Linked DNA regions of Homo sapiens. The protein of the gene in region 1 purifies or fractionates together with the protein of each later gene. This does not show direct contact. Each region holds a gene or a part of one and is shown on either strand. Other genes may lie near its edges.

Region 1 (3,651 bases):
AGCTACTTGGGAGGCTGAGGCTGGAGAATCACTTGATCCCAGAAGGCAGAGGTTGCAGTGAGCCGAGATCATGCCACTGCACTCCAGCCTGGGTGACAGAGCATGACTCCATTAAAAAAAAAAAAAGTTTTTTTTAAATCAAGGAACAATGGTGGTGTGGTGGTGTCCAATATTCCACTAAATGGAAGCCCCATAAGTACAATAACTTGGTTTTGTCACTGCTGTAACCGCGCTGCCTAGCACAGTGCCTATCACAACATGAGCACTTACACTGGGTAAACAGAATCACCAAGAGGCTGGGTGTGGTAGCTCATGCCTGTAATCCTAGCACTTTGGGAGGCTGATGAGGTGGGTGGATGGCTTGAGTCCAGGAGTTGGAGACCAGCCTGGATGGCAAAACCCTATCTTCACAAAAAATACAAAAATTAGCTGGGTATGGTGGCGTGCATCTGTAGTCCCAGCTACTTGGGAGGCTGAGGTGGGAGAATCCCCAGGAAGTCGGGGCTGCAGTGATCTACTTGCCACTGTACTCCAGCCTGGATGACTGAGTGAGACTCTGTCTCAAAACAGTCATAGAAGAGAGAAAGAAAGAGTTTATTCTCTAATGGACAGGAAATTCCCAATTAGCAGTTAGGCTTTTAATTTTTTAAGTCTATAAGCAAGACAAACTTTTCTAGGCTGAAGGGCTGAAGGGGATAACGGGGTATGTCTACTGGTAAACAGCAAGAAATAAAAACAAAATCCAACAATTACACTTGAGTCAATATGAATTTTTATTAACACACATTTGTCAAAGTCTGTACAAACCAAAACATTCCTGTGTTTTAAAATGTCCATTATTACAAACATACAAAGAAACAAAAGGTGTTACCAAAAGTTAGCTACTCAATTTCATGGTAAAACAGTGTCATGATTTTTAAAAATCAAAATTTCAAGACTGAGGTTTCTTCTTTCCCTTTTTGGAACTTATGGAAAGTTAGAAAACGTGTGAATTTGCTTTATATTAAATGCCAAGACCTTAAAAAAAGATTTAGTATAAAACTAAGTATGTTTTTATATTGTCATACATCATGTAACAGAATTTCAGTCCTTAAAATTAAAAAAAAACACCATGACTGTCATTTCCCCCTAATTTTTCTCCCATAGTCAATGCAAATGCATCTGAAAAATATTATGACAGTTTATCTTTACCTAAAAGCTTCTCATTCAAAAACTTTACAAAACTATTTAGCACTGCCATTTCCCTTGCTTAGAAGGGAAAATTATATCCCCTAGTAGGGTGATATATAAGCGACATGGTCCACTGTATCCCTTATCAGAAGGAAACCACCATTTCCACATCTCTGTCCAATTATGTGTAGGACTCCATTTATGAGAATGCTATCACAAATTATAGAGCATCTGCTTCCAGGAAACGCCTAGAAGTTAAATTTAGTACTATAATTTTTTGGTAGACTGAGGTACAAATGTTATCTGCCCTCATTATTATTTCTAACTCTAGTACCCCCTGCATAAATGATTCTAGGGTAGTTGGTTTTGTTGTTTCATGGCACACATGACACACCCTAATTCCTTTCACAAACATCACATAGAGGACCTGAGAGTATGCCTAGAAATGTAAATCTATCCCCTTTCCTGGAAAAGTAAATCCATATTCCTACAGGGTTAAGAAGGGAAGATAGGCAGGGCATACATAACTCTGGTTGAGGCAAAGTGCTTCTGAGAAGCACCTGTTTTCAATACATATCCATGAAAAGCAGGGAGTGTATGGGCTCGGGTGGGTGAGGAGTGGGGAGAAGGTATAGTGATACCACTTTTCCCAGACTCAAGAGTCCTTACTAGAGCAGCTCATGCTGACCCCAAAAATGCTCTGTAGTTCAAATATTATTCCTTTTTTTTTTTTTTTTGAGACGGAGTCTCACTCCATTGCCCAGGCTGCAGTGCAGTGTTGCGATTTCAGCTCATTGCAACCTCTGCCTCCCGGGATTCGAGCAGTTCTCCTGCCTCAGCCTCCTGGGTAGCTGGGATTACAGGTGCATGCCACCAGGCCCGGCTAATTTTTGTATTTTTTTAGTACAGATGGGGTTTTACCATGTTGGCCAGGATGGTCTCAAACTCCTAACCTCAAATGATCCACCCGCCTTGGCCTCCCAAATTGCTGGTATTACAGGCGTGAGCCACCGCACCCGACCATATTATTCCATTTTTAATCTGTTCATTCATGTAAAAAAACATTCTCTGACAGCAGCCCAGTATGACAACTGATATAAGCAAATAAAGGATTTTATTTTTTAAAGAAGTGGCAGTGTGAGAATTTAAAATCAATCACATAAAACAATCAGGAAAGGGGTGGGGAGAGAAGTGTCCAGTACAACCTGGACAACCTTGCTTTCTGCCCTTACTTAAAAAGACAGACGGTTCAAATCTTTGCTACCTCCCTTAAGTATCTCCATAAATGCTCTTCCAAGAAATCCTCCAAAAGGCACTTAGCTCCATACTTATGCATTGAATTGTTTCACCTTAGCAATCAGTTTTTAAGACTCCAAGGTAACAAGAAAGAAAAGATCTGATTCTTTTACTAAAAGCTAGTGAATAGGACTGTTTTTTTTTCAAGAGGCATCACTTTTACAAGAACTAGCTAGACCACCATTATTCCTTTATCAAGAAAAAGTTTCTTTTTTAAAAAATAAATAAAACTCTGGCTATACATAGTACAAAGTTCATACATAATACATCTGGAAAAAAACCGAAGAGTATACCCTGAAGCAAAAGGTTTATTGGAGAGAGAAAGCCTCTTCCATTATACCAAGTCTGAAGATGGCAGTTTTCAAAGTTCAGAGGGTGGCAGTGATATATAATTAATGCCAAACTGTTTGCTCATGGGTATGGCAGGATGCAATGAAGGACCAAAAAAAAAAAAAAAAACAAAAAACAAATCATTCTGCACATTACACTGAGCAGTGACCACCACAAAAAAAAAAAAAAAAAAAAAAAGAAAAAAGAAAAAAAAAGAATAGAACCAAAATAGAGAGAAGAGGAAGAAGAAAAAGAAAAGTCCTAATAGTGAGAGAAAGAGAGCGAGCTTGAAATCCCAAACACTCAAGCATGCAGTCTAACACAGCACAAACCAGGTGTTTCCATTCAGCCCACTGCAATCGCACAAAGAAGGATAACTGTAATAAAATAGAGATTTCTTAAGAAAGCTTGCAATTCCCACAGAACAGCCAGGTCTCCAACCCTAACCCTGGACAACTCCATTTGCTGTTGCTAGGGAGCCTCCTTGAGGTCTGTCATGGAGAGGTTATAGCTCCTGACTTCTCTGACTTCTTGCTCTTGGACAAAGCAGCTGCCTGCTTCAGGAGCTCTCGGTTTTTGGCCTAAAGAAAAAAAAAATCAGTGCAAGAAGGATGTTTCAAACAGGATATAAGCTATTTTTCATGCAGAGTAAGTGCAGATGCTAAGGCAGACAATGTGGAGGGTCAGAAAGAGATGAACAATTCTAGAGGTGGAAAACAACAGGAAGCTCTAGGGCTTGAAACTTGGTTCAGGAGAAAAAAGTATTTGCCAGAGGTTAATCAGTGTACCTCAATCTCTTGGGACCCACTGTTACAAAGGGATGCTTTATGCAATACAAACTGTGAAGTGACTTCA
Region 2 (3,823 bases), on another chromosome or scaffold:
ACAAACAAACAAGTAATTCTAAATCCAAACTTGGTAGTGGATTTGAGAGTTAGCCACAGCATGCAGCTTATCAAGTAATAGCCTAATTTTATAAATGGGGGAAAAAATGAGACTTAGAAAAGTTAAATATCTAAAAATTGAACAGAAGGACACTACATGAGGAATTATAGGAGACATTATTAGTGGAAAGTACATGGGAAGAGTTAAAGAACCTGGATTGTGTCTCAACTTTACCACTTAAATGTTATATGACCTTAACTGGGCAGTGGGCTCCAGTTTCCACCTTAAAAGCGGGAAATGGTAGCTATTTTTGAGAGTTATTGTAAAGATGCAGTACTTCTGTAACAATTATTATTATTTTTTGAGATGGAGTTTCACTCTTGTTGCCCAGGCTGGAGTGCAATGGCATGATCTCGGCTCACCGCAACCTCTGCCTCCCGGGTTCAAGCAATTCTCCTGCCTCAGCCGCCTGAGTAGCTGGGATTTGAGGCATGCCACCACACCCGGCTAATTTTTTTGTATTTTTAGTAGAGTCGGGGTTTCAATGTCAGCCAGGATGGTGTTGATCTCCTGACTTCGTAATCCGCCTGCCTCGGCTTCCCAAAGTGCTGGGATTAACAGGCGTGAGCCACCGCGCCCGGCCTATAACAATTATTATTTATTTATTTGAGCCGGGGTCTTGCTCTGTCACCCAGGCTGGAGTGCAGTGACACAAACATGGCTCACTGCAGCCTTTATATCCTGAACTCAAGCAATCCTCCCGCCTCAGCCTCCACAGCTGGGACCAAAGGCACATGCCACCACACCCAGCTAATTTTCTGTGAGACGGGGGTCTCCCTATGTTGCCCAGGATGGTCTCGAACTCATGGGCTCAAGCAATCCTCCTGCCCTGGCCTCCCAAAGTGCTGGGATTAAAAGCATGAGCCACCACACTCAGCCTATTAATAATTTTTAAATAGGCCGGGCGCAGTGGCTCATGCCTGTAATCCCAGCACTTTGGGAGGCCGAGGCGGGTGGATCACGAGGTCAGGAGATCGAGACCATCCTGGCTGACATGGTGAAACGCCGTCTCTACTAAAAATACAAAAACAAAATTAGCCCAGTGTGGTGGAAGCGCCTGCAGTCCCAGCTACTCGGGAGGCTGAAGCAGGAGAATGGCGTGAACCCAGGAGGCGGAGCTTGCAGTGAGCTGAGATCACGGCACTGCACTCCAGCCTGGGTGACAGAGCGAGACTCTGTCTCAAAAAAAAAAAATTTAAATAGGTTTTCTGGAGTGAGTGTATGGCTGCAACTTCGAAGACAAGGGATGATATTTAAGTGTCATTAACAAACAGCTGATATTAGATAAGGACATGTAAGAAAAAAGAAAACCTCAATTTTTATCTCTTTAAAAACTTCTGGAACATTCACTACTAGTTCCTCAATATTTGCTCACCTGTTTTTGCTCCTCTCCAAGACTATCCCACATGGAGGCCACAATTTTTGAAACCTCACCAAAAGTGGCATTAGGATTCTGTCCCTTGATGGCAGCCTGTGTATCACGAAAGAATAAAGCATATGCTGAAACTGGTTTCTGAGGTTCATTAGGATCTTTCTTTTTTCTCTTCTTTGGGGCCTTCTGCTTTTTCCCTGCTTCCACCACGACTGTCTTCTGGCTGGGAAGTTGCTGTAGGAGAGAAAAAAGAGAGAATTACACAATGGACAATGACAAGTATTATGTCTGGAAACTAGCCACATGTATGGAATTTTCAGAAATGCTAAAAATCATAGAAATAGCATTAAAAGACATTAGTCAAATATGGAGAACCAATAAGAATAGGGATTGAGAGGAGAATTATAAACTGGAAATTGGGAGGTGGAACCCCATACCCAGAAAACAGCAGAGGAGATGGCACGGCAAGGGTAAAGAATACTGATTAGGCTCTGTATCCCAAAAATTTTATCCCAGACTATCACAGCAGAATTGATTTTGACAGGGAATGCCTCACCCTCCGGAAATCCTCAACACCATCCTCGTGAAGTGAACTAGTAGGTGAAGGGGTGGTTGAAAGACGATCTTCAGGTGACTGGGCAGGTGGCAGGATGGTGCCACCCCCTAGGCTCAAACCCAGCTGGGAACTCAGTTCTGACTGATCAATGGTGGTCAACTGGCTATGCCCCATCAAGCCAGATGTCATGTCTGTCATTGGTACATCAATTGTAACAGGTGGGTTGGCACTATACTGAGTTCCTATAGAGTGGTCCAAGTCCTGAGAGAAGCAGAAGGACTAATTAAACACTAAATATAAAAAAAACCACTTTTCCCCCCTAAATTTAAGACAGCTTATAAATTCCCTGCCTACCCAAATTGTATCATTTAAAATACAAAACATAAAATAGTCTTCAAAAATGAAAATAAAAAAATAAGCTTTTTAAAAAAGTACAGAAATTAATGAATTTACTTCTTTGCACTCAAAAGAAGAACTAAAAATAATCAGAGAAGTCGCACTGTTGGACAAGTCAAAGAGCTATCAACTTATTCAGTAATATATAGGTAGTGACAACACATTGAGTAAAGAAAAACTTCCTATCTGTACTCTCCCAAAATAATAGCTTTTAAAATTGTAATACATAGGCAATCAGCATAAATAAGGCCAATATTAAAGTCTGGCATCAAATATAGAGTATGAAGATGTGCTTACTGGTTCGATGTGCTGGAAGCCCAATATACTGATTTATATTACATACTAATCCACAATACTATATTTGGCTCAGACTTTTTTTTTTTTTTTAAGCTCTGTTCTGCTGGCTGCTCAACGTGATTCAGGCCATTTTTGAATAAATCCCTCCGTGTGCCAGCTATCACATTCAAATTTGAATCCTAGGATGTGAAGGCCATAATAAAAGCAGAAAACACTTTTTCCCAAAAACCACAATAAATAATTTTCAAACCAGACATTGTACAATTTTAAATTATTTTTCAAGTAAAATCTACCTACATGGTAAATTTCATTTATTCAGGTGAAATTAAGTCTTTGTTGGTGAGCCTTTAGCCACAAGAAGAGAAACAAGTAATACCCAAGTGTAGCAGGGAATAGAGTAACTTTGTCTCCCCTAATGCCATGCCCATTAGCTGGGGTAAGCCTGACAATGTCTTGCCCCTTACCATGGTCAAGCCCCCACTCAGGAGCCCCCCGCCCTGCTCCATCAAGCCATGGGTCATGCCCACAGGCATGTCCAATGTCTGGACCCCATACTGGGCTGAAAAACTGCCATCCTGTGAAGAGGAAGGGTCTGCCAGGTCATCAAAGTGGCCAACCACATCTGAGACAGCCAATGAGGGATCAGAATCCAAGGAGATAGGTGGGATTTCAAATTCCTCATCACCCAAGCTTGGTGTATGGAATGTCTGTAGGGGAAAAAAGGGGGAAAAGAATTAGTGAAAAGAGGAGAAATGGCATACTACTAAGTGAAGAACATAATGGGGTACTAGAGATTCTCAGGATGCATTTTTTCTGCTTAGGATCCTATTTTATAATCAATTTCTTAGAACCTATTATTTTTACCAATCTCTCTTCTGATACCCTTGGTCATTTGGTACATTCAAGGCTGCTAACATCAGTCACAATTTTCAATTCTTTTATCTCTTTTCTACCATTACCGTCTCTTTTGTCTTAAATTATGCCTATGGTTCTAATGAAAAATTCTTTCAGTACCATTACTTAGGACATAGCCTTTATAACCTGTTTACTATGATTCTTGAAATCTCTCTCTAAAGATTCTAATAGAGCAGTTATTTCACAATTATTACATCTAAACTGTTAGGTCACAGAAATTCGCTGTC

What was found.
Region 2: the proteins of FAM76A (region 1) and TOX4 purify together in Homo sapiens (affinity purification with mass spectrometry, with the first as the bait; one large-scale study listed by BioGRID). This does not show direct contact.

The regions. Positions count from the first base shown.
Region 1 is NC_000001.11:27,760,221-27,763,871, reverse strand, and holds the end of FAM76A (protein FAM76A), read right to left. Parts: intron 3,378-3,651; coding exon 3,291-3,377; 3' UTR 756-3,290; downstream 1-755.
Region 2 is NC_000014.9:21,487,016-21,490,838, reverse strand, and holds part of TOX4 (TOX high mobility group box family member 4), read right to left. Parts: intron 3,389-3,823; coding exon 3,146-3,388; intron 2,250-3,145; coding exon 1,989-2,249; intron 1,667-1,988; coding exon 1,436-1,666; intron 1-1,435. UniProt on the Homo sapiens protein: Transcription factor that modulates cell fate reprogramming from the somatic state to the pluripotent and neuronal fate. In liver, controls the expression of hormone-regulated gluconeogenic genes such as G6PC1 and PCK1.